Linked DNA regions of Homo sapiens: regions 1, 2 and 4 are each linked to region 3. Evidence: fine-mapped expression QTL. A gene starts in region 3. Each other region holds a variant in brackets. All regions are shown on one strand. Distances are from middle to middle.

Region 1 (8,193 bases), 25 kb before region 3:
GGTTCAAGCAATTCTCCTGCCTCAGCCTCCCGAGTAGCTGGGATTATAGGCATGCGCCACCATGCCCGGCTAATTTTGTATTTTTAGTAGAGACAGGGTTTCACCATGTTGGTCAGGCTGGTCCCAAACTTCTGACCTCAGGTGATCCGCCCGCCTCAGCCTCCCAAAGTGCTGGGATTACAGACGTGAGCCACTGCGCCCGGCCAGTTAACCACTATTAACTCCCTCACATTCCACTGAGAGAATTTCTTTTATTTGCCTTACTTTCCCTTATTGATATAGGGAAATAGAAATATACTGTGGGAATAGGTTCTACCCTTCTCTAGTCATGTCCCCCAAACTAAGCCATTTATAGTGTCTTAAAATGTAAGGAACCTGGACCCAGTGTATGCTGATCATGTCTTTGGTCTTAGAGGAGTGTGCATTTGTATTAACAACTCATCTTGGAATTTTAAGCCTTTTTTGTGTAAACTTTAAATAGTACATGAAAAGTGACTTAATTATGGCACAGCCTATTTTTAAGAATTCTCCCTTTGCTATGATGAACAACCACCTGGTCATATGGCAGTGGCATGGAAATGGTCCTAATTTTGTTGCTAAAATAGCTCTTTTGTTTTGTTTTTTGGATAGAATGTCAAAACTGGACCAATGGGGCCAGGCTGAAGTATTGAACTTTCTGCTACGCTACCAACCCCGCAGTGAGGAAGAACTATTTGACATTCTCAATCTGTTGGATAGTTTCCTCAAGAGCAGTAGCCCAGGTGTGGTGATGGGAGCTACCAAACTTTTTCTGATCTTGGCAAAAATGTTTCCCCACGTACAAACTGATGTCCTTGTGCGGGTCAAGGGACCTTTGCTAGCTGCCTGTTCTTCAGAGAGCCGTGAGCTCTGTTTTGTTGCTCTTTGTCATGTACGCCAGATCTTGCATAGTTTACCAGGTCACTTTAGCAGCCACTACAAAAAGTTTTTTTGCTCCTACTCGGAGCCCCACTACATCAAACTACAGAAAGTGGAGGTGCTGTGTGAACTGGTGAACGATGAGAATGTGCAGCAGGTGCTAGAGGAGCTTCGAGGGTACTGCACGGATGTGTCTGCGGACTTTGCACAGGCTGCCATCTTTGCCATAGGTAGGTGTCTGCTCCTTTTCCTTCTTGAGAACCTAGACCAGCCAGCAAGAAAACTGTGGTTAGAGGAACCATAGAGAGCAAAGGGCATGAATCTTGCTTCAGAAGCAAAGTACTATGCACTAAATAATTGGGTCAGTGACTACAAACACGGGGGAAGAGAGTTTTTTTTTGTTTTTTGTTTTTTTTTGGTCAAGATTGGTGTTGCTGTATCTTCCAGGATGGAGAATACAGGTAACACAAACTACAATACTTAAAATTGTTGTTGTCTTCTATCCAAAATGCTTTCCTATACATCATCTTACCACAGTATCGTGAGACAGTCAGGAAAAGTAGACAAATGTCATTAACTTCATTTTAAAGATGAAGAAACTCAGGCACAAAAACAGTTATCAAATTGCCAAAAGGGCACATAGTTTTAGAAATGGGACTGAAATCCAGCTTTCCTGACTCAAAGTCCTATGTTAATCCACCAGTCATTTATTGAGCTTCTGCTATGGGCTATGTATTGTGCTGAATGTAGACCAACACAGAATAATTCCTAAATCTTACAGACTTTTTCATAGTACCCTGTCTGGAATTTGAAAGGCTGGAGTGACTCAAAAACTGAAAACAGCTGTTGAGCCAAGTTTTGAAGGATTTCAAGTACAGGAGGAGGAGCAACCCTCATATTTGGAATAAAGCATGGTTATTTTAGGGGCAGAGAAGAGGGAGCAAAGAGGAGACAAGAAATCCTTAGGAGACTGCTGTCAAGTGTCCCCCACAAAAATACTCCATTGCAGGTGTGCTGCAACAAAAAGGGTACCTCATATCTGGCTGCCATGTAAATACCTTTGTTACTATAAGTTTTCAACCTTGTTTAATGGGGAATTGTTTTGCTATGAGCTTTCAGTTTTCTAGTAGTCAGTGAGAAAAAATGATTTTTACCAAAGTTCCCTTTATAGTAAACTTATATTCTTAGTTCATCAAGTAAGGAGTGAATTTTTTTCTTTTTTTTTTTTTTAGATAATTCTGTTTCTTTTGTCTTTCACTGGTGGGAGATGATTTTAGATTGAGGTGCTAATATTTCACTTAGCAGTTTTCTCTGCTTTCCCTTCTTTTGTAGGTGGCATTGCCAGGACTTACACAGATCAATGTGTTCAGATTTTAACAGAGTTGCTGGGTCTTCGACAAGAGCACATTACCACAGGTAATGCCTGCCTTTTTAGGATTTTTGTTTTTTTTGTCAGGTGCCTGGCCTATAGTAGTTGCTCAAAACATGTTTGTTGTTGAATGAGTAATATAGAGATTTGAACTTTTCCTTGCATCATCATCTGTTGCTGTTAGAGAAGCATAAAGTCTATAGATCTAATAGGATATTGAGTCTTCAGGCTGCCATGATCTATAAGGCTGTACTATAGATAATGAAGGCTACTAGGATGACCTTGCTTGATATTTCACCATCTTTACTTCTCTTTTTGTTTTATGGCAGTATGCCATAGGCAGTGGCTTCCAGGGTTGGGACAAGGGTAAGTCAAGCAAGATGCCTAGGATGCAAAATTTAAGAAGGCACTCACTCTTAGGTTCCTGCAAGAGCCAATCCTGCATGTCTTCTTCAATTTTGAACCCTAGGCACCTCACTTGTGTTATCATTTTCCCAGGCCTGGTGGTTCTATTTATACTGTCTTTAGTGTTTCATTCAACAGCAATACTACCCCACATTTGCATACAGCTTTATGTTTTACAAAGTGCTTTTTCATACATTAGTTCATTTATCCTCATGTCAATCTGATAAGAGCAATATGCATTCAAGAAATTATTGCTTATTTCATTACATTTCTTAGATAACCATTGACCACACCTCCAAAACCCATTTTACAGAAATCCAGCCAGAATCATGAGTCTGAATACATGACTGTTCTTAAGATTCCTGCCTACCTGGAGGCTCTAATCCTGTGCTCTTGTACCCTGGCCTGTATTGTAGTGGTGGTGCAGACTTTCCGAGACCTGGTTTGGTTGTGTCCTCAGTGTACTGAAGCTGTATGTCAGGCCCTGCCCGGCTGTGAAGAGAACATTCAAGATAGTGAGGTAGACTGTAATTCTCCTTTACTTCTAGGTAGGGGGAGAATGCTTGAAACCCTGCCCTTTGAAATGGAATCTAATTATTCTCTCTACCCTGTGTTTGAAGTGGGCACTCTTCGAATTGATTGCCACCTTAGATTCTCTTTTGGATATAGATGGCATATAAATTATAAAAACAAGATTTATCCGACGGGTTTTATTACAAAACT[G/C]TGATACCATTGTTCTCTTGAACAGTTCTGTTTTGTTTTGTTTTGCTTTGCTTGAGATAGAGTTGCCCAGGCTGGAGTGCAGTGGCGTGATCTCGGCCCACTGCAACCTCTACCTCCCAAACTCAAGTGATTCTCTTGCCTCAGCCTCCTGAGTAGAGTAGCTGTGATTACAGGTGTGCACCACCACGCCCAGCTAATTTTTGTATTTTTAGTAGAGAGGGTTTTGCTATGTTGTCTAGGCTGGTCTAGAATTCCTAGCCTCAAGTGATCACCCACCTCAGCATCCCAGAGAGCTAGGATTACAGGCATAAGCCACTGTGCCCCGCTTCTCTTGAACAGTTTTGAGTCAGAGATTTAGACCATGGAGTTTTTAGCTAGAATGAAAATTATAATCATTTGTGAAATTTTTACAAAGATTTGGACGTAATCACAGGTCTACTGACTTAAATATTCAGGGGTGTTGGACCTAGACAGATAACTTTTTTTTTTTTTTTGAAACAGAGTCTAGCTCTGTTGCCCAGGCTGGAGTGCAGTAATGCCATCTTAGCTCACTGCAACTTCCGCCTCCTGGTTTCAAGCAATTCTCCTGCCTCAGGCTCCCGAGTAGCTGGAACTACAGGTGTGCACCACCACGCCTGGCTAATTTTTGTATTTTTAATAGAGACGGGTTTCACCATATTGGCCAGGCTGGTCTCGAACTCCTGACCTCAGGTGATCCACCCTCCTCGGCCTCCCAAAGTGCTGGGATTACAGACGTAAGCCACCGTGCCCGGCTGACAGATACATTTTTAAGAAGCTTCACAGATGACTCTGATGTGCACTCTAGGTTAGTAACCATTTTTGTGAAAAATTTAGAGAAATTCTTTGAGCAGCTTCCACTGAAACACTAAAACCCAATAGGGCCAAAGGCCCCAAACCTGAGGAAACCTTATTTATTGCTTAATCCAACATAGGCTATGAAAGTTTTGAGTTTCCTCTTGTGTATTAGAATTTCATTCCTATTTGTTGTAGAGAGTATAGTACGGGGAATCAGTAAATTAAATGAAGTAAACTAAAGATTACACCTTTTCTGCTGGCACTAAGCGAAAAGCAAAACCAGTGGCTGTCTATTATCTCCTGTGTTTTAGACAGTCAAGTGTTGAGCACTTGCTCTTATTCCTTTATTCTCTAGGGGAAGCAAGCACTTATTTGGCTACTTGGTGTCCATGGGGAAAGAATTCCTAATGCTCCTTATGTGTTAGAGGACTTTGTTGAGAATGTGAAGTCGGAAACATTTCCAGCTGTTAAGATGGAGCTGCTCACTGCTTTGCTGCGCCTTTTCCTCTCCCGACCTGCTGAGTGCCAGGACATGCTAGGACGTTTGTTGTATTACTGCATAGGTGGGTTTTTCAGAAGGAAATAGTATTTGCCATGACCCATAGTAAAAATTCTTAATAGCTTTCATTGTTTGGTGAGTCACGTCTGGGACCCGAGAAGAAAATGTGAATGCTTCCTAGGTTTTCCTCTCTCCTTCATTTTTTTCTCCTATTATGGTTGGCACAAGAGTAGGAGGAAAGTGGTTTTGTTTTTAATGAAGTCAATCTGTTGTCTTACCTCAGAGGAAGAAAAAGATATGGCTGTACGGGACCGAGGTCTCTTCTATTATCGCCTCCTCTTAGTTGGCATTGATGAAGTTAAGCGGATTCTGTGTAGCCCTAAATCTGACCCTACTCTTGGACTTTTGGAGGATCCGGCAGAAAGACCTGTGAATAGCTGGGCCTCAGACTTCAACACACTGGTGCCAGTGTATGGCAAAGCCCACTGGGCAACTATCTCTAAATGCCAGGGGGCAGAGCGTTGTGACCCAGAGCTTCCTAAAACTTCATCCTTTGCCGCATCAGGTAAAAACAGTCCTTACCTTAAATCTTGTCATGATAAATCTTTACCTTTTCAATGATTGGTGGAAAGTAGAGTATCTTAGCACTAAACCTCAGACTGTTGCCTGAATTTGAAGCATTTGTGAGCAAGAAAGAGGTTCGTCACTGGTTATTTCAGCCATTTGTCCAAAAATAAAAGTCACATTGTGTACATTTGGGAATTTGGATAAAAAACTTAGCTCCTACAGATTAAGAACATCTTTCACACAAGTTTTCTGTCTCTTTTAGGACCCTTGATTCCTGAAGAGAACAAGGAGAGGGTACAAGAACTCCCTGATTCTGGAGCCCTCATGCTAGTCCCCAATCGCCAGCTTACTGCTGATTATTTTGAGAAAACTTGGCTTAGCCTTAAAGTTGCTCATCAGCAAGTGTTGCCTTGGCGGGGAGAATTCCATCCTGACACCCTCCAGATGGCTCTTCAAGTAGTGAACATCCAGACCATCGCAATGAGTAGGGCTGGGTCTCGGCCATGGAAAGCATACCTCAGTGCTCAGGATGATACTGGCTGTCTGTTCTTAACAGAACTGCTATTGGAGCCTGGAAACTCAGAAATGCAGATCTCTGTGAAACAAAATGAAGCAAGAACGGAGACGCTGAATAGTTTTATTTCTGTATTAGAAACTGTGATTGGAACAATTGAAGAAATAAAATCATAACAGAGTCTTGTTGCTTGTCTAGAGTAAGATGAATAACTATTACACTTTCTTAGTCTTTCCTATTAGAGCTGCCAGTAAGTCCAGATAATATCAGATACAAAGGAGAGTGGAAAATCTAGAAATCAGGATTCTTAAGTTTTTGGCCAAAGAACATTGATTCATTCCTTTCATTCCTATTGGCAATTGACCCCATTTTTCAGTGATGATGTTGTAGAGGTTAATGTTGGTAAGGAGATGCGTTGAGGATGGGATTTGGATTATTTCCTAATCAATTTTAGGAATTGTGTTAGTAATTAAAGATGGCTGATGTGTGGAAACTGATAGGGGTCATCATTTGTGGGGGTCATCTTTTCTTCCCTGGATTATTATAGTAAATTCCTAACTGTTCTCATATTTCCAATCATGCTTTTAGGCCAGATTCCAAAGTCCTTAATGTCATCTAAAGTACCTCTTTGGTGTCAAGTCTTGCCACTCCCAAAATGACTTCTTTTCTGGCAGAAGCAAACCATTTGCATTGCAGTTCCCTTTATACACCTGCTTCTTTCACCTCTGTGTTAACTTAAACCTGCTTTTATTTATTGCCTGGAACATTTTCTCACCCTCATATCTTCTTGAATTAACACCTCGTCTATCTTTCAGTGTTCAGCTCACTCATAAGCTCCTTCAGGAAGTTTCCTTTAACCCTCACTGCCTTCATTAGGGGCCTCCCTCAAGCTATCAAAGTAGCCAGAGCATACCTCTAGCAGTAGTATTGTAATTGTTTTCTTGTTGCTTGTCCTCAATTTTTATTCTGTTCTTATCTGACCACATTTTGTACATTGAAGCAACTTATGGCAAGAACAAATCTAATAAAATGATGGTAAAATATAAATAGCGAATCCAGAATGGGAAAAATTAAAATACCAGTTAAGACCAGCTAGGTTGGGGATGGGGAAATATACAAATGTTCAGGCTGTATGGGCCTATTAGGTGATATAGTTGAGCCTTGATTTGTCTCTATAGGTGATTTAGCAGTCAGAGTTAAGGGAAACAGTTATAATTGTCATCAGAGAGGAAGAAACATTGATTTCTAAAAGAAATGTACATGTAGTTTCACATAGGTGGTACTAAGATATGTGCAAGATCCTATGAGAAGTTAGTAATGGGTTTCACATGACTTTCTTAACAGTATTCTTCAACGAAAGCAGAGAGCATGACTTTAATACAGAGCTTAGACTGGGTGCAGTTGCTCACACCTGTAACCCAGCACTTTCGGAGGCCAGGGAGGGAGGATTGCTTGATGCCAGGAGTTCAAGATCAGCCTGGGCAGCATAGTGAGACCCTGTCTGTAAAAAAATTGACTTAGCCAGGCATGGTGGCACATGCCTGAAATCCCAGCTGCTCAAGAGGCTAAGGCAGGAGGATTGCTTGAGCCCAGGAGTTTGAGGTTACAGAGAGTAGTGATCACACCACTGCACTCCAGCCTGGGTGACAGGAGACCCTGTCAAAAAAAAAGAACATAAAAAAAGTAGGCTAGATATGGTGGCTTACGCCTTTAATCTCAGTACTTTGGGAGACCAAGGTGGGTGGATCACTTGAGGCTAGGAGTTTGAGACCAGCCTGGGCAATGTAGTGAGATCCCCATCTCTACAAAAGTAAAACATTAACCAGGTGTGGCAGCGTGTGCTTGTAGTCCCAGCTACTTGGGAGGCTGAGGTGGGAGCATTGCTTGAGCCTAGGAGGTCAAGGCTGCAATAAGCTATGCTCATGCCACCGAACTCCAGCCTGGGCTACAGAGCAAGACCCTGTCTCCATAATAATAATAATAATAATAACATGGTGCTTAATGAAGGCATTTCTTCAAGGACTTAAGATAACATGATCCAAGTATATAGCCTTTATCATCCAGCTTAATTCAAGGATTTTTACTACCTAGATATAGATAAGCACATACCTTCAGATAATTTTTCACCTATCACTTCTCTCAAATAGCCTTTTTTTTTTTTTTTTTTAAATCTGAGACGGAGTCTTGCTGTGTCACCCAGGCTGTAGTGCAGTGGTGTGATCTCAGCTCACTGCAACTTCTACATTGCAGATTCAAGCCATCCTCCTGCCTCAGCCTCCCAAGTAGCTGGGACTACAGGCATGCACCACCACGCCTGGCTAATTTTTGTATTTTTAGTAGAGATGGGATTTCGTCATGATGGCCAGGCTGGTAACTCCTGACTTCAAGTGTTACCCAGCCTCA
Region 2 (8,193 bases), 510 kb after region 3:
TGTTTTTTGGCTGCATAAATGTCTTCTTTTGAGAAGTGTCTGTTCATGTCCTTTGCCCACTTTTTGATGGGGTTGTTTGTTTTTTTCTTGTAAATTTGTTGGAGTTCATTGTAGATTCTGGATATTAGCCCTTTGTCAGATGAGTAGGTTGCGAAAATTTTCTCCCATTTTGTAGGTTGCCTGTTCACTCTGATGGTAGTTTCTTTTGCTGTGCAGAAGCTCTTTAGTTTAATTAGATCCCATTTGTCAATTTTGTCTTTTGTTGCCATTGCTTTTGGTGTTTTAGACATGAAGTCCTTGCCCGTGCCTATGTCCTGAATGGTAATGCCTAGGTTTTCTTCTAGGGTTTTTATGGTTTTAGGTCTAACGTTTGAGTCTTTAATCCATCTTGAATTGATTTTTGTATAAGGTGTAAGGAAGGGATCCAGTTTCAGCTTTCTACATATGGCTAGCCAGTTTTCCCAGCACCATTTATTAAATAGGGAATCCTTTCCCCATTGCTTGTTTTTCTCAGGTTTGTCAAAGATCAGATAGTTGTAGATATGTGGCATTATTTCTGAGGGCTCTGTTCTGTTCCATTGATCTATATCTCTGTTTTGGTACCAGTACCATGCTGTTTTGGTTACTGTAGCCTTGTAGTATAGTTTGAAGTCAGGTAGTGTGATGCCTCCAGCTTTGTTCTTTTGGCTTAGGATTGACTTGGTGATGCGGGCTCTTTTTTGGTTCCATATGAACTTTAAAGTAGTTTTTTCCAATTCTGTGAAGAAAGTCATTGATAGCTTGATGGGGATGGCATTGAATCTGTAAATTACCTTGGGCAGTATGGCCATTTTCACGATATTGATTCTTCCTACCCATGAGCATGGAATGTTCTTCCATTTGTTTGTATCCTCTTTTATTTCCTTGAGCAGTGGTTTGTAGTTCTCCTTGAAGAGGTCCTTCACATCCCTTGTAAGTTGGATTCCTAGGTATTTTATTCTCTTTGAAGCAATTGTGAATGGGAGTTCACTCATGATTTGGCTCTCTGTTTGTCTGTTGTTGGTGTATAAGAATGCTTGTGATTTTTGTACATTGATTTTGTATCCTGAGACTTTGCTGAAGTTGCTTATCAGCTTAAGGAGATTTTGGGCTGAGACAATGGGGTTTTCTAGATATACTATCATGTCATCTGCAAACAGGGACAATTTGACTTCCTCTTTTCCTAATTGAATACCCTTTATTTCCTTCTCCTGCCTAATTGCCCTGGCCAGAACTTCCAACACTATGTTGAATAGGAGTGGTGAGAGAGGGCATCCCTGTCTTGTGCCAGTTTTCAAAGGGAATGCTTCCAGTTTTTGCCCATTCAGTATGATATTGGCTGTGGGTTTGTCATAGATAGCTCTTATTATTTTGAAATACGTCCCATCAATACCTAATTTATTGAGAGTTTTTAGCATGAAGGGTTGTTGAATTTTTTCAAAGGCTTTTTCTGCATCTATTGAGATAATCATGTGGTTTTTGTCTTTGGCTCTGTTTATATGCTGGATTACATTTATTGATTTGCGTATATTGAACCAGCCTTGCATCCCAGGGATGAAGCCCACTTGATCATCTACAGAACTCTCCACCCCAAATCAACAGAATATACATTTTTTTCAGCACCACCTCACACCTATTCCAAAATTGACCACATACTGGGAAGTAAAGCTCTCCTCAGCAAATGTAAAAGAATAGAAATTATAACAAACTATCTCTCAGACCACAGTGCAATCAAACTAGAACTCAGGATAAAGAATCTCACTCAAAACCGCTCAACTACATGGAAACTGAACAACCTGCTCCTGAATGACTACTGGGTACATAACGAAATGAAGACAGAAATAAAGATGTTCTTTGAAACCAACGAGAACAAAGACACAACATACCAGAATCTCTGGGACGCATTCAAAGCAGTGTGTAGAGGGAAATTTATAGCACTAAATGCCCACAAGAGAAAGCAGGAAAGATCCAAAATTGACAACCTAACATCACAATTAAAAGAACTGGAAAAGCAAGAGCAAACACATTCAAAAGCTAGCAGAAGGCAAGAAATAACTAAAATCAGAGCAGAACTGAAGGAAATAGAGACACAAAAAACCCTTCAAAAAATTAATGAATCCAGGAGCTGGTTTTTTGAAAGGATCAACAAAGTTGATAGACCGCTAGCAAGACTAATAAAGAAAAAAAGAGAGAAGAATCAAATAGACGCAATAAAAAATGATAAAGGGGATATCACCACCGATCCCACAGAAATACAAACTACCATCAGGGAATACTACAAACACCTCTACGCAAATAAACTAGAAAATCTAGAAGAAATGGGTAAATTCCTGGACACATACACTCTCCCAAGACTAAACCAGGAAGAAGTTGAATCTCTGAATAGACCAATAACAGGATCTGAAATTGTGGCAATAATCAATAGCTTACCAACCAAAAAGAGTCCAGGACCAGATGGATTCACAGCCGAATTCTACCAGAGGTACAAGGAGGAACTGGTACCATTCCTTCTGAAACTATTCCAATCAATAGAAAAAGAGGGAATCCTCCCTAACTCATTTTATGAGGCCAACATCATTCTGATACCAAAGCCAGGCAGAGACACAACAAAAAAAGAGAATTTTAGGCCAATATCCTTGATGAACATTGATGCAAAAATCCTCAATAAAATACTGGCAAACCGAATCCAGCAGCAGGAACACACTCTTAAGACACAGATCGCTCATGCTTTTGTGTGTGGCTTAAGAATGCCTTTAAGCGGTTTTCCGCCCTGGGCGGGCCAGGTGTTCCTTGCCCTCATTCCTGTAAATCCACGACCTTCCAGCTTGGGCGTTATGGCCATTATGGACATGTTACATTGCTGCAGAGATTTTATTTATGGCCAGTTTTGGGGCCAGTTTATGGCCAGACTTTGTGGGGCTTGCTCCCAACAAGAGATTTCTGGGTTTCACCCTTAGAGATTTTGGTATGCAGTAGGGCCCTTTAATCTGCAGTAAGCCCACCACCTCCCAGGTGACTCTAGTAGTTTCAAAATTTTAGTGGCATGATTCCAAAACTTTAGCACTATCAGAATCAGCCAGAAGGGTGGATAAACCAGAGACTGTTGGGCTCTACTCCAAGAGAGTTTCTAATTCAGAAGGTCTAGAGTGTCAGAATTTCCATTTCTAAGTTCCTGAGCAAGGCAGGGACCAGCTTTTGAGATCCACTGTGTCCTAGGACAAGACTCTAAGAGACACTTCACTGGTTATATAATTCTTGATTCCACCAATTTTGAAGCAATTTCTAAAATATACAATATACATGCCTCCACTATGCCATATCTTCATACCCCTTTCTTTGAGAAATGTGGAGAATGGCAGGTTTAGGGACCTAGAGAATACTATCTTGGGGTAAAATCCTTCAGCAGCTTGAGATGAAAAATCTACTCTTTTCTTTTCTTTCTTTCTTTTTCTTTTTTTGAGACGAAGTTTCATTGTTGTCACCCAAACTGGAGTGCAATGGTGCGATCTTGGCTCACTGCAACCTCCACTTCCCAGGTTCAAGTGATTCTCCTGCCTCAACTTCCCGAGTAGCTCGGATTACAGGCTCCTGCCACCACGCCTGGCTATTTTTTGTATTTTTAGTAGAGACGGGGTTTCACCATGTTGGCCAGGCTGGTCTCAAACCCCTGACCTCAGGTGATCCACCCGTGTTGGCCTCCCAAAGTGCTGGGATTACAGGTGTGAGCCACCACAGCCAGGCTTTTGTTGTTGTTGTTGTTGAGACAAGGTCTTACTCTGTCATCCAGGCTGGAGTGCATTTTGTTTCGAGGCAAGGTCTTGCTCTGTTACCCAGACTGGAGTGCAGTGGCACAAACATGGCTCACTGCAGCCTTGACCTCCTGGGCTCAAGCAATTCTACCACCTCAGCCTCTCAGGTAGCTGAGACTATAGGCATATACCAGCAAGCCTGGCTTATTATTTATTTATTTATTTTTTATTTTTATTATTATTTTGGTTGACATGAGGTCTCATTATGTTTCTCAGGCTGGTCTTAAAATTCTGAGCTCAAGGGATCCTCCCATCTCAGCCTCAAAGTGCTGGGATTACAGGTGTTAGCCACTGTGCACAGCCAGAAAATCTACTTTCAAAATGGTGCAGTGTTTGTATAAAACTTCAAAGTATTAGAAGCCTCAAAATAAGACTGATTCTAGACAAGAAATAGCAAAAGCAGTACTTTTTTTCTCCTGCCTATACTGCTTTAAGATTTAAAAAGCAGGGAAATTTATTTTTTGTCACAAATATGTGTATTTGTGACAACTATAGTATATACACTTGTGAGTTTTTCAATAAAATATAATTTGCATTTAAAGTCATTTAGCTTTTGGCAAACTGGAGGACACCATGTCAGACATATTTAATTTCATATGGGGGGATATTTTAAATTGAAAATAAAAATAGGATTAAAAATGTTAATCTTATACTGTTCCTCTGGGAAAATCATTTTATCTTAGATTTCTTAATACTGCTTAAGATGCAGAAAGATAAAGTGTGTGTGTGTGTGTGTGAGAGAGACAG[AGG/G]GGGAGAGAGAGAGAGTGAGTGAGTGTGTGTGTGTGTGTGTGTGTGTAAGGCTTGCTTGGTTTCATGGTTCAAACTCATGAAAGTGCACAAGGTAACCAAACAGCATAAAGGATGATGATTCCATGATTCAGGGCCCATCCACGTGATGCATTTTTGAGATATGTTAGGTAATCTTTTCAGTGTATGTGATCTATGAAGATATTTTCCATAAAGGCATTTGGCAAATGAGTTTCCGATGAAATGTACTTCTAGACTTCAGTATCTTCAGAAATAATTCAGTCCTTTCAGATTTTGGAATTACATAAAAGATTTATGTTTCTTATAGGCATCCATGAGGAGAGTTGTCAACATCTCATCTTGAAAAAACCTTCGTAAATATCACAGTCTCCATAAAGCTTCCTTTTCTTGCCCATGAGCACCTCACTCCCAGCAATGGACTCACACCCTCCCTTGAATCCCACTTCACTGTTATAATGAACAGACATCTGACTTTACTGACTGAAATTGATTGGCTTTACTGACTGAAAATCAACTCAACTTTATTCATTATCCTTTTTTTCTATTACTACTTTCAGCTTAAATACAAATAAAGAACTCTTCTTTCCTACAGCTATCTACAGGAAGTGAGTATTTTTAAATTACCAATCAAATGTCTTGGTGTGAAGGGAATTATATTTTTGCAGACTCTTGATGATTAAGTCTTCTGAGAATGCCAATGGGCATGAAAAGTTTTTCCTTTTCTCTATTAAAATAGACCCTACTTAAGGCAAATTTTTAGACAGATAGCAGAGAGATGCACTCTCTTAAGTATAAGGCTGGTCTAACTCAACTGTCTTACATATGGATGAAGTGTTTGAGGACGCAGTTGCCAGGCACATGGGCTCTGGAACCACACTGCATGAGTTCAATTCTGGCTCCTACAGTTACTAGCTGTGTGACATTGTGCAAGTTACTTGCCTTCTCTGTCTCATCTGTGACATTAGATTCTAATAGTACCTACTTCAAAGAGTTATGAGGATTATATGTAAAAGGCACTTAGAACAATGCCTTAAATATAATAAATGTTCAGCTGTGGTTGTGTTGTTGTTATAATTGTTACTGAAAGTTTATATCATGTTAACAAAGAATGAAGAGCAATTTTATTCTAAAGGGATAAGTATTAACAATGGTTTGTTTACTATAAAATGGCATGAATGCCTATTTAAGGGAAAATAGAATAATTATTAGTTTACCTGATCCCAAATTAAAATGAGAAAGCTCCTTTCTGTAAAAGCTACTACTTATTGCCAAGAAATATAACAAATGTTATAAAATGTATAACAAACACAATATAGCTTAAAAACATCCCTTAAAAAAACAACCTGGATTTTAGTTACGAACAGACGCCATTACATTATTACCTTGAGACATTTGCTGAGAGGGAAGCACAATTATATAATCAAGCATAATGAATGCGTATTCATTTATTTATACTGCAACTTATTCCAGAAAGGAATAGAGGCTGCTATGACTAGTGAATCATAAGAGAAACATAAAAAATCTTCTAATGCAGTGGGCTAGCTCTCAATGCATATAAAACACATTGTAAAAAATATTGCAAAGAAATATAAATAAATAAGAACAGAAAATGCTCCTTCTACATTTTTATTAGTGGCACATTTCCTTTCTTGAAGTATCAGTGTTTCATTTGAATCTTTCCCATCCCTCATTCCTCATATTCAATTGGTAGCCATGACCTATTAGTTTCACCATAGCCTTATTTCTTGGATCCAGATCTTTTTTCTGTTTCTACTACCAATACCCTACTTCACATTACCTCTTTAATATTAATAGTTTTTCATTCGCCCCTTTTCCCTCTCTCCTCTTTCCATCCTCCTTGCCTTCTCTTCTACCACCATAATCTACCCAACACTGTGCTACAGGATTAATTTTTCTAAAGTACACCTCTGGTCTTGTCATTTGCCTGCTAAAAAACCTTTAGTGGCTTCTTATTACTTTATATTTTTGATACATCTTATTTGTACCTCTTTTTTGTCAATGTTTTCTACTTCATAGTATAATCAATTTTGTATATATTTGAGCATCTCTACTAGTAAGTAAGTTCCTTGCATTGCTTTTTTTCCACAGAACCTAGCCATTCTCCTAAGGTATCAATGAATGTTGAACAAAAAGAAGTAAGTAGGCCAGGTACAGTGGCTTGTGCCTGTAATCCCAGCACTTTGGGAGGCTGAGGAGGGAGGATGGCTTGAGGCTAGGAGTTCAAGACCAGCCTGGGCAATATAGCGAGACCCTGTCTCTACAAAAACAAAAACAAAAAAAAAAACAAAAAGAGAAAAAAAAGATTAACTGGGCTTGATGGTGTGCACCTGAAGTTTTAGCTACTTGGGAGGCAGAAGTGGGAGGGTCATTTGAGCCTAGGAGGTTGAAGCTGCAGTGAGACCAGGCTGGACTGCACCACAGCACTCCAGCCTGGGGGCAACAGATTGAGATTTCGTCTTAAAAAATAATAATAATAAATAAATAAATAAATAAATAAAATCTTAGAAGAAAATAATCTTGCTAGGCATTCGTATTTCTTTTTCTTCTTTTTTCTTTTCTGAGACAGGGTCTCACTTTGTCACCCAGGCTGTAGTGCAGTGGCACTATCATGGCTCAATGCAGCCTCAACCTCCCAGGCTCAAGCAATGCTTCTGCCTCAGCACTCCCAAATAGCCGGAACTACAGGCACGCACCGCCACACTGGCTAATTTTTTATATTTTTAGAGGCTGGGTTGCGCCACGTTGCCCAGGCTGGTCTTAAACTCCTGGGTTCAAGCAATCCTCCTGCCTTGGCCTCCCAAAGTGCTGGGACTATAGGCATGAGCCACCACGCCTGGCCTTGACAGGCATTTCTAACCACTACAACTATTTCTTTATGATGACATAATTTGATCAGGACAAAGAGAGATGTGAATCACCAAATTAAGAAAGTGTAACTAATCAAGACCTTAATTACAGATCTGCAACATAGTTACTTAATTTCTCTAAATTGAAAAGAACATATTTTTATCTTGTTGCCTGCTATGTAAGTTATGCCAAATAAAATGTTAAGCAAAATTTAAGGAAAGCCAGTAAAATGAAAAAACAAAAAATCTAATTAAAAATAACAAAATGTAAAAAGGTACCATGACACTAGAGATTCTAATGAAAATGATAAACTGAAATGTCCTTACATGTAAGGTAGCAAGCTATTTACTAAGTTGAAAGCCTTTGAGAAAATTTATAATCACATGACCATCGTAAGAGTAATTCATTTGTGCATTTATGATTCTGCAGACAAACAGTATTCTTGGCAATGTGCGTTTAAATGTTGAGTGACCCCAGAGTACAACTATATGAAGATTAATTTTTAGCTTGTATACAATTTGCATTGTAGCATGTTCAGTCTCAGAAGAAAATTCACCCAGAGATTTCATCAGATGTTAAAAACAGCTTAGAAAAATAAGCAATCATTTTAAAGACAATTCATGTAAGGTAAAGATAACCATCTCTTAGACTCTGAGTATCTATAATCATTGTAAGGATTAAGGTTTGTGTCTTTCCATATGATAGTAATACACACAGACACTTCTAGAGA
Region 3 (8,155 bases):
TCTTTTGAATAAACTCTTAAATAAACTTATAGGAGACAAGGAAATTGAATAAATGAAAACTTCTATAGCTGAATATACAGATTTATATTGAAGAGATTCAGACTAAGGGAAGATCATGGCGAAACAGAGTTAGGGGCAAGATTTTTGAAGAAAAATTGAGCTTTATGGTTTTATTTTCATTGTGGTGAAACTTAGGGGTAAAGGTGAGAAGTAGAAAAAAGTGGTAGTAGAACGAACGAGGTCTGTAGGTGATGTGCTTGGATAGGTTGGGTGGGGATAGTTGACAGGGAGGGGCTTGGTGACAAGCTAAGGAATCTGGACTTGTTCCCGTAGATCATCAATAACTATTCTGATTCTTTAGCATTAAAGTGCAGTTTTAAGAACTTTCATCCAGCCTTGGTTAACAGGAGATACTAGAATGGAAACATATAGATAGGAAGATACTCTAAGTTTATTGCTATAGGAATCCGGGTGTGAAAGTGGGAATGGGGCTAAGTGGGAATGGAAAAGACAGGTTGAATCTAAAAGACATTGAGGAGAAATTTCCAATAGGCCTTGGTGATCAAAAGAATGCTTACAAAGGACTGAATGTTTCACAGACAGTATATATATCCCATATCAAATCAATGACCCTGGAATGTAGGGAAAGGCAAGAGTAGTGAAACTAAAGCTAAGGTTGGGTAAGTATCTTCTCCAGGGTAAAACATGTCTCCCCCTCATCTAAAAGACAGAAGGATGTTCTGAGAATCCTGAATGTTTTTCCTATTGAATAGTTTATCTTACCCTTGTAGTCTTCCCTGAAATTCTCCTCAATTAATGTTTATTGTAATCTAATTCCTGACCTCTGTGATACTGATATTTCCCCTTAAACTAGCATACTCCCCTCTTCTTGGAACAGGTGACATGGTGACCAGCACTCTTCTCTGTTGTGTTCTTCCTTCTGACCAAGCACTACAGCCACATGAGGCAGCAGTGAGATGTGGCCTTGTCACTCCTCTTCAGGTGCTTATCCACAATTTACTTCCCACAATTTACTTGATGGTTCTGGCAAAATGTTTGTGAGTCTTTTTTTATTGCATGGAATTGTGTTCACTTAGGTTTTATGCCAGACTGGTTTAAATGATTCATCATAAATTCTGAAACTCTTTTAGGTATTTGCCAACCTTTACTGCATGTCTTGTTTCCCCTCCCCAGCTCTTTATCTTCCCGCAAGATACAAATGAGTCAACACAATCTTCATCAAAAAGCATTGTGCTCTGTAGAAGGAAGTGTGATAAATTAAGTAGTAGCTTATTTTTTTAAAAAAAAAATAATAGCTCCAGCTACTTGGAAGTCTGAAGTGGAAGGATCACTTGAGCCCAGGAGTTCCAGACTAGTCTGGGTAACATAGCAAGACCCTGTCTCAAAACAAAACAAACAAACAAACAAAAAAACCCAAAACAAAAAAAATAATTAAAGTTTTTTGTTTTCTTCTTCAGTTTGTTTTTTGCTTGCTTGAGTGGTCTGCTCAGGAAATGGCCTTGTAGCTAAGTGGGTTTTGGGGGTTTGGTTATTTCACAATGTCTCTATACCTTTTGGGTTTACAGTAGAATAGATTGCTGCTTGCTTTTTTAAAAAAGTGTGAAGTTCTGCCAAGACACTATTTACAGATTCTTAGATTTTGAGGAAAGGGACTATGGAGGCATCTAAGCAAAATTTTTTTTGTTATCTCCTATTTATTTCTGTCTTCTCCCTCATTAAGAAGAAACAAGAAAGTTAGTAAGAGATTGTGCTGAAATATAGGCTTGAGAAAAATAGATTTAAATTTTATTAGGCAGGTTTGCCTCATCAATTAATAAAAATTAATAAAGTTCTAGTTTTGTGTAATTGAGGACATTCTAAGGGTACAGAGAAATTATAAAACTATATTATCTTCTTTGTCCAAACATAGAAAATCATTTTCCTTTTAGGATTATGCTTTGCTACTCTGCAATTAAGCAAGTTAGTTTGGAATGTTTTTATTTTTATTTTCTTTCCCAAAGTTACCTAAGGAGTGTTTTAATTTTTATCAGTAATCATGTCTGTATCTTTAGTTCTGAGTTGCTTTATTAACTGGCTAAGGATGTTTTTGTTTTGTTTTGTTTTGTTTTTACCATATTCTGGCTTTCTCAGTGTTGTATGCCAATCTCCTAAGACAATGTTTAGAATTTAGTGGGTACTCAATAAATTTGTTGAACAACTTAATGGATTTTTAAATGTTTATTTCTAATTTTAAAAACGGTATGATAATTTTAGAAAGCAAACTTTATCATAATTCTAAAATTATGATAATTTTAGAAAGCAAACTTACACAATTGATTCTTTTTTGCTTCTTTTAGTCTTTAACTATGTACACACTTTTACATGGTTTTAGTTATTACAAACTTGAAATTTTGTATTTTTATAAATCAAAGATTTCCCATATTTTATGTTTTAAAATAGCCAAAGTAAACATCACGTTACTTAGAGCAGCAAGAAATTCTCTCTTAATTCTAGATGGGGATAATTTAAGAAATATACTATTCCTAACAAATATTGCTGAAGAATGAGGGTTTATTTTAATTTATGTATACTGGGATTGAGTTTCTTAATTTGAAATATTGTCTTTAAGTTGTCTATAACCAAGATATCTCGATGATCTTTCTTTTTTTTTTGCAGTACTTAGTAAAGAGCATGCAGTATCTTTAATGTTCAGATTAAGCAGTGTTCAGAATCATGATATCCTGAAGGAAGTTTGAATAATGTTGCAAAACAGAAAGGATTGCTAATATCTTAAATAGAGGAAGTCCTAACAACACATTTCCCAGTTTTCTTCAGGATCAAGACTAATTTTGTTAACATTTGTTGAACTTCTGCCTTCAATAAAGATGATATACTGATTTTTGGATGTTCTCACACTGAATTAGGCACTTGGGTAGACTTGTACCCATTGAGAGGTTATGCAAGCTCAAATGTGGAAAGTTTTTCTAGAAGAGCCTGCCTTTCAGGGCCAAAATGCCACAGGCACAGCATAACTTCCTGAAACAAATTTATTTCCTAAGACATTGGTTGCAGAGTAGAAATGTGTTCTTTAGAAACAGTTCTTCAGGCTTTCTGCCCTAAAAGTTACAATGTTGTCAGCAAGGTGGTTGATTTTACTTTCTTTTTGTTCCATCACAGTTTACCAGCATTACATATGCAGGGTATTGAGCTAACTGTCTGGTCAGGTGCTCCTTGTGGGGGCCACTTGCTCTAGATCCTATATAGACCAACACTCTTAGTCTTTATATCCAGAACCCAAGTGAAGCTTCAAAGGTTACTGGGAGGGTTGAAGAGGTGCTGAAATCAACACTTCCCTTAATGGAGGTCAGCACTTCCCCAGTCCTGGGAGAGACACAGACTGTCAGAAGCATCTGACTTTGCTTCATTCAAAAGGGAGTTTGAGGTATATATAGCAGACTTAAAAGTTATGAATAAAAATACCTTCTGTGATGAACAGAAGTTTCTCATTGATCACACTGACAAGAAACCTTTCGATGAACAGTCCGGGTAGAAGACATGTCACTCACTCTAAACAGTGTCTGTCTTCTTTCCTGGGCCTAACTGAACTTTGCAGAGTTCATTTGGGACATAAGGAAACAGAAGGTGTCAACTTGGCCCTTGTGCTCACTGGGAAAATGGGGAGAGACAGAACTCATTCAGGAGACCTGTAATTCTGTTCTTTCTCTGGGAGGCAAGAAGAAAGGTGAGTTTTGCATATGGGTGATGGAATGGAATAATCTCAGTTAAGCAGACCACACTTTACGTTCTAGTTAGCCTCTTGTTTGTTAAAAATTTGAATTGTAACCAGGTTCCTTTGCTGAGAAGGAAGGCACTAGGGCCCTGGAGTGAGATGATGGCTGTGTTATGTGACCACAGAAGGTGGTTACGTACTAATTTCCTCTAGGGCTTGTGATGAAGTCAGTAAACCACAGCCTTCAGCATGCTCTGCTCAGGCGGCAGCAGTGGCTTTTTGGAGGTGTCTCGGCCATGACACACATTTGACATGCCCTCCCTCAACCTACTTATAGACTATTTTTCTTGCTCTGCAGCATGGACCAAAGAGAAATTCTGCAGAAGTTCCTGGATGAGGCCCAAAGCAAGAAAATTACTAAAGAGGAGTTTGCCAATGAATTTCTGGTGAGTCCTGTATGTGACCCTCTCAGGGTAGTTACATACACTATTTAACTGACTATGGGGGTCCAATTTTCCGAGACCAAATTGCTCTTGGGATAAAGTAAATATGAGACCTTGGCGGGGAAGACAGAAAAAAAAAAGTTTGACTTCTCTGAGTGGTTTGCATGTATTTCAGGTATTCTCTCAAAATTACTGGTTTTAATATTTTGTTTGCTAGTTCTTTGGAGTTTGGTTAGGAATCCTACAGAAGACATATACAACTCCAGATGTAAAAACACTAATATTAATTGAACATCCAGATTTCCCCAGGTATCTAAGTTGTGGTTTATGCTTTATATTACTAATTTTAATTAATATTAAGAAGAAAGAGACCAATGTTAACTTTTCATGCAATATTACATTTTTAGCCTCCCCTCTGGGATTCTATTTGGTTGACAAAGGTTTTTGAAGAGCACCAAAACTACCCACTGCCACAGTTTTTTTTGTTGTTGTTGTTTGTTTTTTTAAGATTCAGAATCTTACTCTGTCACCCAGGCTGGAGTGCAGCAGTGCAACCACAGCTCACTGTAGCCTTGAACTCCTGGCCTCAAGTGATTCTCTTGCCTCAGCCTCCTGAGTAGCTGGGGCCACAGGTGTGTATCGCCATGCCTGGCTAATTTAAAAAAAAATTGTTTTTTTCTTTTTTGTAGATACGAGCCTTGCTTTTTTGCCCAGGCTTGTCTCGAACTCCTGGCTTCAAGCAATCCTCCCATCTTGCCTCCCAAAGTGCTGGGATTACAGGCATGAACCACTATGTCTGGCCATCATTTTTCTTTTCTTTTTCATATGAAAAATATATTATAACATGTGTTTTTTCAATAACAGGGCTTCCTTAACTTCTTTTGCTTGGAGAAGTGGAATGGCTAGGATGGAGAGTAGAGACAAGTGTAGGTCAAGGAGAGAAACATGAGTACAAGGTAGCTTCAGGTTGGGTGGATTAGATTACCCAGAAGAACAGTGAATCTCCTTTGAGAGAACTGTGATTATTGATGCAATGGCAGCTGGGTAGGCCTCATTCACCCTACAAGCTGAGATATCAGATAACATAGGGTGTCTAATAGTACCTATCATGTATTTTAGAATGCTTACAGCTGGCGTTTCAGAGATATAAGAATTTTAAACCTTAGCTCTTCAGTTGTGAAGAAATGGGTGGAAAGAGGGGAACTGAAGTACAAACCTGAAATTAAATCATGATTTTTTTTCACCAAATTATGAAGTATTTGACATGTTCTTAAATCTCTCTGTTTTCTAACTTATAAAATGGGGATAATAATACATGTCCTACCTATCCTCACAGGATTGTTGTGATGATTAAATATCAATAACAATCATTAAATGTGGTCATTTATTGAGTACCATTTATTGAGCACTTAGTATGTACCAAGTTCAGTTCTAAGCACTAAAAATACAGCGGTGAACAAAAAGAACCAAAACCTTTGCCTCCTGGAGCTAACACTCTGGTACCGGATAGCAGATGTGAAAACACTCTGAAAGTCTTGAGTAATTAGATATTATTGAGTGATTAGATATTATGATAGGAACTCCGATGTCAGCTCAACATGGATAATCTTGTGGTACTATGAAAAATGTGCTCTCACTGCCACTGGCTGATCAGTCTGAGCCCCTCTGGTAGAGTTACCTGAAAGGAGATAAGTAGGAAGTTCTAGCACATGTGTATACATGTCCCTGCCCCTGGACTATAATTCCTAAGCCAAGGTAACCCAAGGCATAGATGTAAAAAGTGAGCTGAGGGGCAGTGCCGGCCTCTGTTTTATTTTGGTTGTGTTTTTTAAAATAATGTAGACTGGCCGGGGGCAGTGGCTCACACCTGTAAACCCAGCACTTTGGGAGGCCGAGGCGGGTGGATCACCTGAGGTCAGGAGTTTGAGACCATCCTGGCCAACATAATGAAACCCCATTTCTACTAAAAATACAAAAATTAGCTGGGCGTGGTGGCAGGCACCTGTAATCCTAGCTACTCAAGAGGTTGACACAGGAGAATCGCTTAAACTCGGGAGGCAGAGGTTGCAGTGAACTGAGATAGAGCTGTTGCACTCCAGCCTGGACAACAAGAGCGAACTTCTGTCTCAAAAAAAAAAAAATGTAGACTATATCCCTAATATTTTACCTTTTCTCAGCTAAAGTCATTATAATTTCTCACCAAAATATAGCAGCTACCTCCTAACTGGCTTCTCTGCCTCTAGCCTTGCCCCACCTTCAGTCAATTTTCAGTTCAACACCCAAGTGATCTTTTAATCATACAAATCTGGTCTTTTTTTTGGGGGCGACAAAGTTTTGCTCTTGTCACCCAGGCTGGAATGCAATGACACCATCTCGGCTCACTGCAGCCTCCACCTCCCTGGTTCAAGCGATTTTCCTGCCTCAGCCTCCCAAGTAGCTGGGATTACAGGCATGAGCCACCACGCCTGGCTAATTTTGTATTTTTAGTAGAGACAAGGTTCCACCATGTTGGCCAGGCTGGTCTGTCCAACCAGGTAATCCACTCGCCTCAGCCTCCCAAAGTACTAGGATTATAGGCATGAGCCACCACGCCCAGCCAAATCTGGTCATTTTTTCCCTGCTTAAAAACTTGTTATAGTTTTTTTTAGCTGCTTAATATTGTGCAATATAATACACATTTAGAAAAGTACATAAAACATTTAAGTATAATTATAAAGCAACCATTAGCAGTGCAACCACTACCCAAGTCAAGAAACTGTCAGACCCCCGAAGACCCATGCCCCATCAGGTCCCCTACACCCATCTGCCCCTGTCCTGTCCTACCCTGGCCAAGGGATAATCACTATCCTGACTTTTATATTAATCACTTCCTTGCTTTTCTAGCTCCTGATTTTAAGGACCTTGTTTTTGGGTAGTGATTAAGTGTAACCTCACTGTTCACTGACTCATGTCCTCCAGTGGAAAAATAGAGTCTTCCTCTCAGCTCCATCTAAAGGTTTCAGATGAGACACCAGATAGAGAGCTTTGGGGGAGTAGAGGAGTAGTGAATGAGGCTAGACTGCTTGCTTGGACAAGGTAAATACTGCCACTAAATCAGAGGGCTTTCCATCTGGTCATGTTCTGTGTCCCATCTTAAGCCCTTAATGTATTCTCCCAGGATTTTATGTTTCCGAGGTTTGAGGACTCATTCTGTGACACAAGGCCACTGTTCACTTAACTGGTGGTAACTTTAAGGGAATTATCAAAAGGCATCTCTATTTCCAGGTAGATTCCCTGAGCATCCTAACCCCTTTACCCTCTCCCCAGGTCCATGGTTCAGATTTCAGTCTCCACTTCCTTCTTGGCCATACATCTTTGTACAGAGAACAATACAGATGGCTGTCTGTATCCCCAAGTTCTACATCCTTGGATTCAACCAACTATGGATCAAAAATATTTGAAAAAAATACCAAAAATAACACAACAACAAAAAATAAAAAATATAAAGCATAACAACAATTTATCTAGCATTTACATTGTATTAGGTATTATAAGTAATGTAGAGATGATTTAAAATATACAAGAGGTCATGTATAGTATGTGTAAATACTATGCCATTTTATATGAGGGACTTGAGCATCCACAGATTTTGGTAATTGAAGGGGGTGGTCCTGGAACCAGTCCCCCACAGATACTGTGAGAGGACTGTATTCATAATTGGATGTGGCAGTCCTGTTAATGGCAGCTGAAGCCAGTGCCATGCTGCTTATGTCTTTTCCCTGTGCCAGGACTAAATTCAGTAACTTTTCTGTAGTTGAAACTACCACTGACCACCCATCTAAGGTTTTTATACATTCATATAAACATTCATTGAGTGCTTATTGTGTGCAAAGTAATGCCCTAGATGCTAGGAATGCAATGCAATGCTCCATGCTTTAGTGGAGCTTATGTTATAAGGCAATAGATATGTCTTAGAGAGGCAGACATTAAACAACTAATTGCT
Region 4 (8,193 bases), 83 kb after region 3:
CTCTAAGCAGGAGAAAGTAAAATGTAGATTTTGTGCAAGAAAAATGAAAACTTCTGTTATTTTTATATTTTTAAATTATTGTGGTGGCTAAAGCTAGGATCCACATATAGGGTTTTCTTTTAACATTCTAGAAAACTCAAATGTTCTAATACCAGAGCAGAAAAATTTATATGTCCATTGAAACAGTAAGCTGATCCTTGTTTGATTACTTAACTCTTAGCAGTTGATACAGGATAACTTTATAAAGTTGAGTTTCCTTCCTTCCTCCCTTCCCCTTCCCCTCCCTTCCCTTCCTTTCTTTCTCCTTTCTTTGATGAGGTCTCGCTCTGTGGCCCAGGCTGAAGTGTGATCATGAAGTGTGATCATGGCTCACTGAGGCCTTGAACTCCTAGGCTCTAGTAGTCTTTCTACTGTTTCTTACTCCACTGTACCCCAGTACATAAACTTCAGGAAGTGGTGGAACTCAACTTGTTCTTCGCTTTCAGGTGCTATTTCCAGTGCCTCAGCCTCTAGAGTAGCTAGGACTACGGGTGTGTACTATTACAATTGGCTAATTTAAAAATTTTTTTATAGAGCCAGAGTCTCACTATGTCGTCTAGGCTAGTCTTGAGCACCTGGTCTCAACGGATTCTCCTGCTTTGGCCTCCTAGCATGTTCGGATTACAGGTGTGAGCACTAGCTTTGCTTATAGTCTGCATTTTCTGGTGATGCTGATGTTGCTAGTAAATGGACCACCAAGGCCATATAGGTCTCAAAATCTGTACATAAATTGCAAGCGCAAATAATAACAAACACTAAAAATACAGTGAAGTTAAAAGGGAATTGTTTTCAATATCACCTCTGAGATCTTCTGGCAACTAAGTAATTGAAGGATGTACATGGAGAGGAGTGTGTGTTATGTGTTTGCTGGGGGTAGGGAAGATTGGCAAATCTGCATGTTTTAAGTATCTTTTTCAAAAATTTTCATATATAATTTTGAGGTTTCACTGAGAATCAAAGCTTTTTAACTTTAGGTAGTTTTATTTCTTATATTACTTTTATTACTCTATAAAATGATAATGTTCTGTAGCATTGGCGTGTATAATTTTAGTGTCTACGGTTCCAGAGAAAAACAAAAAATGTTATTCCCTCGTTGTGTGTTGGGACAAGGCCTTATATGGGCTTGTTATATGCACTCTGATCTTTGATTGATTAACATTTTATAATGAATTGGTAATACTAATAAGAATAGAACTAGTAGAGTAGTATATAGCTTGGGAAATAGCTCAGAAACCCTTAAGGAACTGTATGCATTATTAGTGTGTTATAGAAAAGGAGAAATAAACATTTTAAGTAGCAGGTTTTATAAAATAAAATGGCATAAATAAAAATGGTAGGCTTGATTCTTTTTTTTTTCCTCTTATTTTAAGTACTCACTTTGACCCAGTCACACTGTTTTTTCACTATATATTTTAAAGTAGGAATGCCTTTCTATTCACAAGGCACAAGGTTAGGAAGATCGCTGGCTAATTTTTTCCTTTCTGTGTTTTAAAAAGTCAGCTTGAATAGGCTTCTTCCTGAAACGTGAGTTCTGTGGAATAATCCACACCCGCTCTCAACCCCCATACACAGGGTTTTCCACATAGTGCTTTTTTAGCTTGGTGTTCTCCTGAGTTATTAACAGATTTATAATTGTCCTTTGTAGAAGCTCTATGTATTGGGGACACAGTTGAGCTTACTTAATTCAGAAATTCATACAGGATAACTGTGAAGTTGAGTTTCTAATTTAAACACTACATATGTATTGACAGCAGTATATATATTCAAAGATAATTGTTTAACATTTTATAGATATTATAAAGAGAATAAATTTTATGCAAAACTATTATTTTTTTTAATAGGCATATTTCTCTTTGATGCCACATCCTTCTCCCCTCCCCACTTTGCCTTCTGATTTTACCAAAGACTGTGTTTTTCCTGTTGGCGTTATGTCTCCTGCTTCCATGGCAGCTTTAGTTTTTTCTGTTCTTTGGTCTCGTACTTACCTCCCTCCAGTCCTCCCAATTCTGTTTGTTCCTCCACTGTGCTCCAGTACATAAACTCCGGAAAGCTGTAGAATTCAACTTGTTCTTTGTTTTCAGTTGCTATTTCCAGGCCAGAGTTTCCCAAACTTGCCAGATCCTAAGAATAATTTGGGGTTGCTAGTTCAAATATACATTAGACTCTCAGGTTCCTCTTCTGGAAATTTTGGTTCATGAGGTCTGGAGTGAGGCATGAAATAAGTACCTTGACCGACTTGATTCCTATGATCAGGCAAGTTTAAGAAACACTGTTTTAAACCATATACCATCTACCATTACTCTAGTTCCTTTCATTTGACCTGTAGATAGCATCTTTTTAGAATTTCAGAGCATCATAAACTAAGAGATAATCTTATCTGACCTCTACAAAGTGCAAATTTTAAAAAATCATGTTTTGATTGGCCATCACTGGGGACTTTGTCTCTTCATGACATTTTATAATGCTTCCCATTGGGTTGTCAACATTGCCTGGGAAGCCTACTTCTTTTCTTTGTTTAGCTTGTTTACCTGTTCTTCATAAATACTATTTAAACTTTATCTGTATACATCTTTTCCTCATTCTCTCCTGTTACAGTAGAGAAGATATTCTATCTCCTCCTCAAAGGCTAATTTGTCAGGCTAATTTGTCTACTTGTGTTATGAATACCATCCCTTAGCCTGCTAAGGTTTTTAAAAAACTGTTGTCAAATATACACAAAATTTACCATTTTAACCATTTTAAAGTGTATAATTCTGTGGCATTGGGTATATATATTGTTCTATTACCACTACCGTTTCCAGAACTTTTTCCTCATACCAAACAGAAACTCTATACCCATTAGGTTAGGATCTTTGATGTCAGTTACCCGCTACTACCCCTCCAACCTTTCCCTTCTCCATTCCCACTCCCCACGTAACTAAAAGTATAAAATATATTAAGCGAATTTCTGCTTCGTGTCTTTCCCCCGCTTTTTTTTTCTCTAAATAAACTTTTCCTTTCTCCCTAGAAGTAAATCTTTATTCTGAATTTGTGGCTTATCATGTCGTTTTATCTTTTAACATTTTACTAATACCAAATGAACATAAAAACAATACTTGTACCTTTGTATTTTAAAACTACAGTGTATTGTGTGTATCATTCTGCAGGTTATTTTTGTTCAACATTGTTTTTGAAGATTATTTTGATACATCTAACTCTACATTAATTTTAACCATTATATTTGGTATTTTGTTGGGCAGCTGTATCACTGTTTTTGAACACTTTACTTTTCCTCTGCTCTCAAACAACAGCAATCAACACAGAAGACTTCTTTGCCCAAATGTGGGAGATTTCTCCCCCACAACAAGCAAGCAATCAGTTCTTCAGCAGACACCAGCTGGGTGTCATCCAATTCAATTCCGACACTACCCAGAGTCAGTTTTGGATCCCAGATAGAGGGCTCAGTCCCCAGGACTGGCCTCTCCTTCCCACCAGTCACAAGTCCAGGCCTCTGGAACTTCTGACCAACTGGCTTCAAGTTGGGGTTCCCACGATCCCCTCTTTGAGTTCAGTGGATTTGCTAGAGTAGCTCAGAGAACTCAGGGAAATACTTATGTTTATGGGTTTAGTGTGATGGATATGTTAAAGGGTGCAAATAAACAGCCATATGAAGAGATACACAGGGCATGGTCTGGAAGGGTCCCGAGCACAGGAGCTTCTTTCCCCGTAGAGTTGGGGTATGCCACCCTCCCAGCAAATGTATGAGTTCCTGTTGATCTTCCTGTCTGCTTCCACATGTTCAGCTATCCAGATGCTCTCAGAACCTCTTCAGTTTTTATGAAGCCTTCATTATGTAGGCTTGATTGATTAAGCCAGTGGCCGTTGGTGGTCAGCTTGACCTTTAGCACCCCTCCCTGGAGGTTGGGGGTAGGGCTGACCGTCCAACCCTCTAATTGTACCTTTATTTTTCAGGTGACCAGCCCCGCCCTAAAGCTGTTAGTCAATATTAGCATACAAAAATAGAGCTATTTGGAGATAACAAGGAGTTTAGGAGCCCTACCTCAGGAAATAGGGATGAAGACCAGATACATATTGCACAATATCACACTCACTATTTATTCTCCTATTCTTGGACATTGAGGTTGTTTACAGTTTTATAATATTATGGTGTTACAGTAAGCATTTGTGTAAATGTCTTTTTTTGGGTCGGGGTGGGGGCAAGGTAGAGGGTCTTCCTGTGTTTTCCAGGTTGATGTCAAACTCCTGGCCAAGGGATCTTCCTATTTTGATAGGTCTTTTTATCCACGCATGTATCCTGGGGTTTCTATTTGTCCTTTCTCCTGTCTGGCATTCCATGACTCTTGCCTGAATTCAGTAGCTCAATTCTCACATCTGAA[G/A]AATTTTTCTTTAACTGTAACATTTGATTGATGGGTCATTTTTCTTAGCTTTATAAAGGCATTGCTTCAGTGCCTTTAAACTTACAGTGTTGCTGTTGAGAAATCCAATGCCATAATGATTCCTGATTTTTTTTAGCTGTTCTGCTTTTTTCTCTCTGGAAGCTTTCAGAATTTCTACTACAGAATGTCTGAGTACCAAGGATAATGTGCCTTGAGATGGATCATTTTTCTTTAAAAAAAATTACTATGAAATATTTCAGACGCAGATATAAAGAATAATAACAATCACTCTGGCCCAAGAAATAAAACATCATCAGTGCAGTTGAACCCTACCCCCCACCACCCTTTTTTATGTGGAAATCCATCCTTTATGGAGTTTTTTCTTGTATTACTTGTTAATTTTCTTTCTCAGTTATCGTTTTTTTCTGAAACTTTTATTAATTGTATATTAGGCCTCCCGATTCAACCTCAATTTTCTTATCTTTCCTATTATATTTTTCATTGTCTTTTTTCCTGCTTTCTGGGGGTAGATTTAACTAGCTTCTTAATGTTGATTAATGTCAGCTGTAATGTTTTCAGTTTGAGAGCTTGTTCTTGTTCTCTGTCCCTTTTTTAATAACTTCCTATTGTTTCATGGATACAATACCTTTTTTCATCTCTCTGATACTAATTATACTTGTTTTTAAGTTTTCTTTTATACTCTTAAGTTGTTCAAGTTCTTTTTTATTTTTATTTTAGTCTTCTGGTTATGTTTTCATCAAACATGGTGATCTGTTCATATTGAAACATGAGTCGTTATAAAACATTAGAAACTCAGTGAACACGTGGGTGGGATTTGTCATTTGAAGACTGGATAGGGAATGTGGTCATATTGTGAGAAAAGCTCTAAATATTAGTGTTTAAAGATATTGTTTCTTGGGCCTTTAGTTTCTACAGCTAAAAATCTACCACATTTTTGTCAGGGGATGGAGTAGGTTACACACCTGTCTGCTAGAATTCTTGGAAGGAGGTAGGCGATTGCATTGTTAAATAACTGGGATTTTGCTTAATTCCCTGCTTCCAGTGTAATGGTTCTCTCCCTTGCTTGTGCCTTGTATCCTTGTGTCTGTAGTCATTTAGTTCACTTTTACCACAAATAAGGTGAGGAAAAAGGAGCATGGGATAGGAAGGTAGAATGTAAGTGGAAGGGTCTCACTGACTCAAGCAGATTTTAAACCCACCTTTTTTGTTTTTAGTTGCATGCTTTGTTCTTGCCTTCTATAAAAGTTAGCCAGAGTTCTCAGTTTGCAAATTTCCCTGTACATTTTTCACCTTCCAAAAACATTTTGATAGCTTGTATCTGTAGTTTTTACTTCTGTTCTCTTTGACTATCTGGGATTTTAGCCTTGATATTTTATTCTCACTTGAGTGGGATTTTGACAAGGAATAGAAAAAAATCATACATCCAGTCTACCATGTTTAAACAGCAGTCCTCTTCACCTTTTCATCTTTATCAGATTCTTCCTATTAGTGTTGAAACATGATCACACAAAAGAGGACTTAAATGGAAACATATATTACTGTGTTCCTGGGGAAGAAGAATCAATATCAGAATGACAATTTCTCCTAAGTTATAAATTGAACACCATCCCAATAAAATAGAAATAGTTGTTTTTTGAGACAACCAAGCAGATATTGAAGTTTATATGCAAAAATAAGTAGGCAAGAACAGCCAGAAAAGAAAAAGTAACGATGGAGGAGTGCCTTACCTGGTACCAATATATTCTAAAGATTTAATTATTAAATCAGTGTAATTAGTTTATGAGCTCTGTTCAGCAAGATAGAAAATTTAGAAATAGACTACAGGCACTCACCACCACGCCCGGCTAATTTTTTGTATTTTTTTAGTAGAGATAGGGTTTCACCATGTTGCCCAGGCTGGTCTTGAACTCCTGGACTCAAGTGATCCGCCTGCCTTGGCCTCCCAAAGTGCTGGGATTACAGGTGTGTGCCACAGTACCTGGCCCCCAAACAATGGCTTAAAACAACGCAAATTTAGTTTCTTACAGTTCTGAAGGCTCTGAGGGAAAAAAATCAAGTTTTTGCCTTTTTTAGCTTCTTGTGTCTTACATTTCCTAGCTTGTGGCCCCTTCCTCCATCTTCAAAGTATATTACCCCAGGCTATGCTTCTATCATCACATCGCCTTCTCAAATATCTCTTTGCCTCAGTCTTTAAAAGACACGTGTTATTACATTTAAGCCCACCTGGATAATCCAGGAGACTCTCCCCATCTCAGGATCCTTAATTTATTCACATCTGCAGAGTCCATTTTGCCATAAGGTAACATTCACAGATTCTGGGGATTAGGTTCTAGGGGTTAGGTTCTTTGGAAGCCGTTTTTCAACCTATCACATACTTCTGGCTCATCATGTCCAAAACAGTGAAACCTGATCCTCCTCCAGAAGAGAGAGTAGTTGCTCTTTCAGGTTCCAAAGTACAGAACCTGGTAGTCATCTTTCATACTTCTTTCTCTTATCTATCATATCCAATCTTTGTCCACATCTTGACAATTTTATCTCCTGTATAATTTTCAGATCTCTTTGTTTTTCTTTTAAAAAGAAGTCCCTATTTAAAATCAAGTTATTAGCTTAGCCTAACATTTCTTATTTGGCATATTATAGAATACTCCTAGCTGATCTCTTTACTTTTTGTGCCCCTCTGAGAAAACTAAACAAACAAAAAACCAAAGGCAAATTGGGTAACTTTCCTTCTTTTCAGATCCTTTAGTGGCTTTCCAGAATCCTTGATGTGATCTTCTAGGCTCTCCATAATCCAGCTACAGCTGATTTTTCCAGTCTCATCTTTATTTTTCTCTTTTGCTTTCTGTGTTTATTATCATTAGCTTTCTTTTAGATCTTGGAAAGGGCAATGCTTAAGAGATTTTGTTTCCCTCTGAACTTGTTCTTCAGATTTGAGCTCAATGTTACTTCAAGGAATACTTTATTCCCCGGATCAGGATCCCATGTTCTTTTTCATAGTGTCATACATCTTACATTCTGAAGATCAAAGTTTATAATTAAATGTTTATTTAGATTAGTGTCTGCCTCTCCTTACTAGACTGTAAGCTTCAAGTGGCCAGGAATAGGTCTGGTTTGCTATACCTGTGTTGAGTACAGTGGCATAAAATATATGTTTATGTGCTATGTAGTGACGTTTCAGTCAATGACAGACTGCATATGTAACGCTGACTCCATAAGATTATAATGGAGCTGAAAAATTCCTATCACTTACTATATTTACTATACCTTTTATCATTATTTTAGAACATACTTCTACTTATTAAAAAAAAGTTAACTGTAAAACACCCTCAGACAGATCTTTCAGGAGATATTACAGAAGAAGGCTTTGTTATCATAGCAGATGATAGCTCCGTGAGTGTTATTGCCCCTGAAGACTTTTCAGCAGGACAAGATGTGGAGATGAAAGACAGTGATATTAATCATTCCAACCCTGTTGTAGGCATAGGCCAATGTGTGCATTTGTATCTTTGTTTTTAACAAAAAAGGTTTAAAAAAAGTAAAAAAAAAAGTTTTTAAGTAGAAAATACCTTACAGAATAAGGACGTAAAGAAAGTATTTTTGTATAGCTGTACAATGTGTTTTAAACTATGTGTTATTACAAGAGTCAAAGAATTAAAAAACTCATAAAGTTTATAAAAATTACAGTAAGCTAAAGTTAATTTATTATTGAAGAAAGAAAAATTTTAAAAATCAGTGTAACCTAAGTGTACACTGTTTA

Evidence for each region.
Region 1: its variant is fine-mapped to the expression of PTPN22 in whole blood (TOPMed, PIP 0.94).
Region 2: its variant is fine-mapped to the expression of PTPN22 in whole blood (INTERVAL, PIP above 0.99).
Region 4: its variant is fine-mapped to the expression of PTPN22 in whole blood (TOPMed, PIP 0.97).

Annotation. Positions count from the first base shown.
Region 1 is chr1:113,892,838-113,901,030 of GRCh38, reverse strand. AP4B1 (adaptor related protein complex 4 subunit beta 1) reads left to right here. Exons shown (of 10, transcript NM_001253852.3): 5 at 631-1,127; 6 at 2,230-2,313; 7 at 3,088-3,191; 8 at 4,566-4,773; 9 at 4,993-5,274; 10 at 5,539-6,837. The coding sequence ends at 5,966. It overlaps AP4B1-AS1 (AP4B1 antisense RNA 1), which reads right to left. Exons shown (of 5, transcript NR_125965.1): 4 at 3,042-3,163; 5 at 1-1,159. Among named protein-coding and RNA genes, the nearest start is that of AP4B1, 7.9 kb to the left of the region's middle. The variant G/C (reference allele first, on the strand shown) is at 3,395.
Region 2 is chr1:113,353,987-113,362,179 of GRCh38, reverse strand. No RefSeq gene overlaps it. Among named protein-coding and RNA genes, the nearest start is that of MAGI3, 32 kb to the left of the region's middle. The variant AGG/G (reference allele first, on the strand shown) is at 4,575.
Region 3 is chr1:113,867,558-113,875,712 of GRCh38, reverse strand. It overlaps PTPN22 (protein tyrosine phosphatase non-receptor type 22), which reads left to right and starts at 4,001. Exons shown (of 21, transcript NM_015967.8): 1 at 4,001-4,176. The coding sequence starts at 4,090. All of the region lies in intron 3 of AP4B1-AS1 (AP4B1 antisense RNA 1), which reads right to left. RefSeq lists enhancers at 3,996-4,255, 4,814-4,863.
Region 4 is chr1:113,784,916-113,793,108 of GRCh38, reverse strand. The region is part of intron 2 of RSBN1 (round spermatid basic protein 1); the gene reads left to right. Among named protein-coding and RNA genes, the nearest start is that of RSBN1, 23 kb to the left of the region's middle. The variant G/A (reference allele first, on the strand shown) is at 4,416.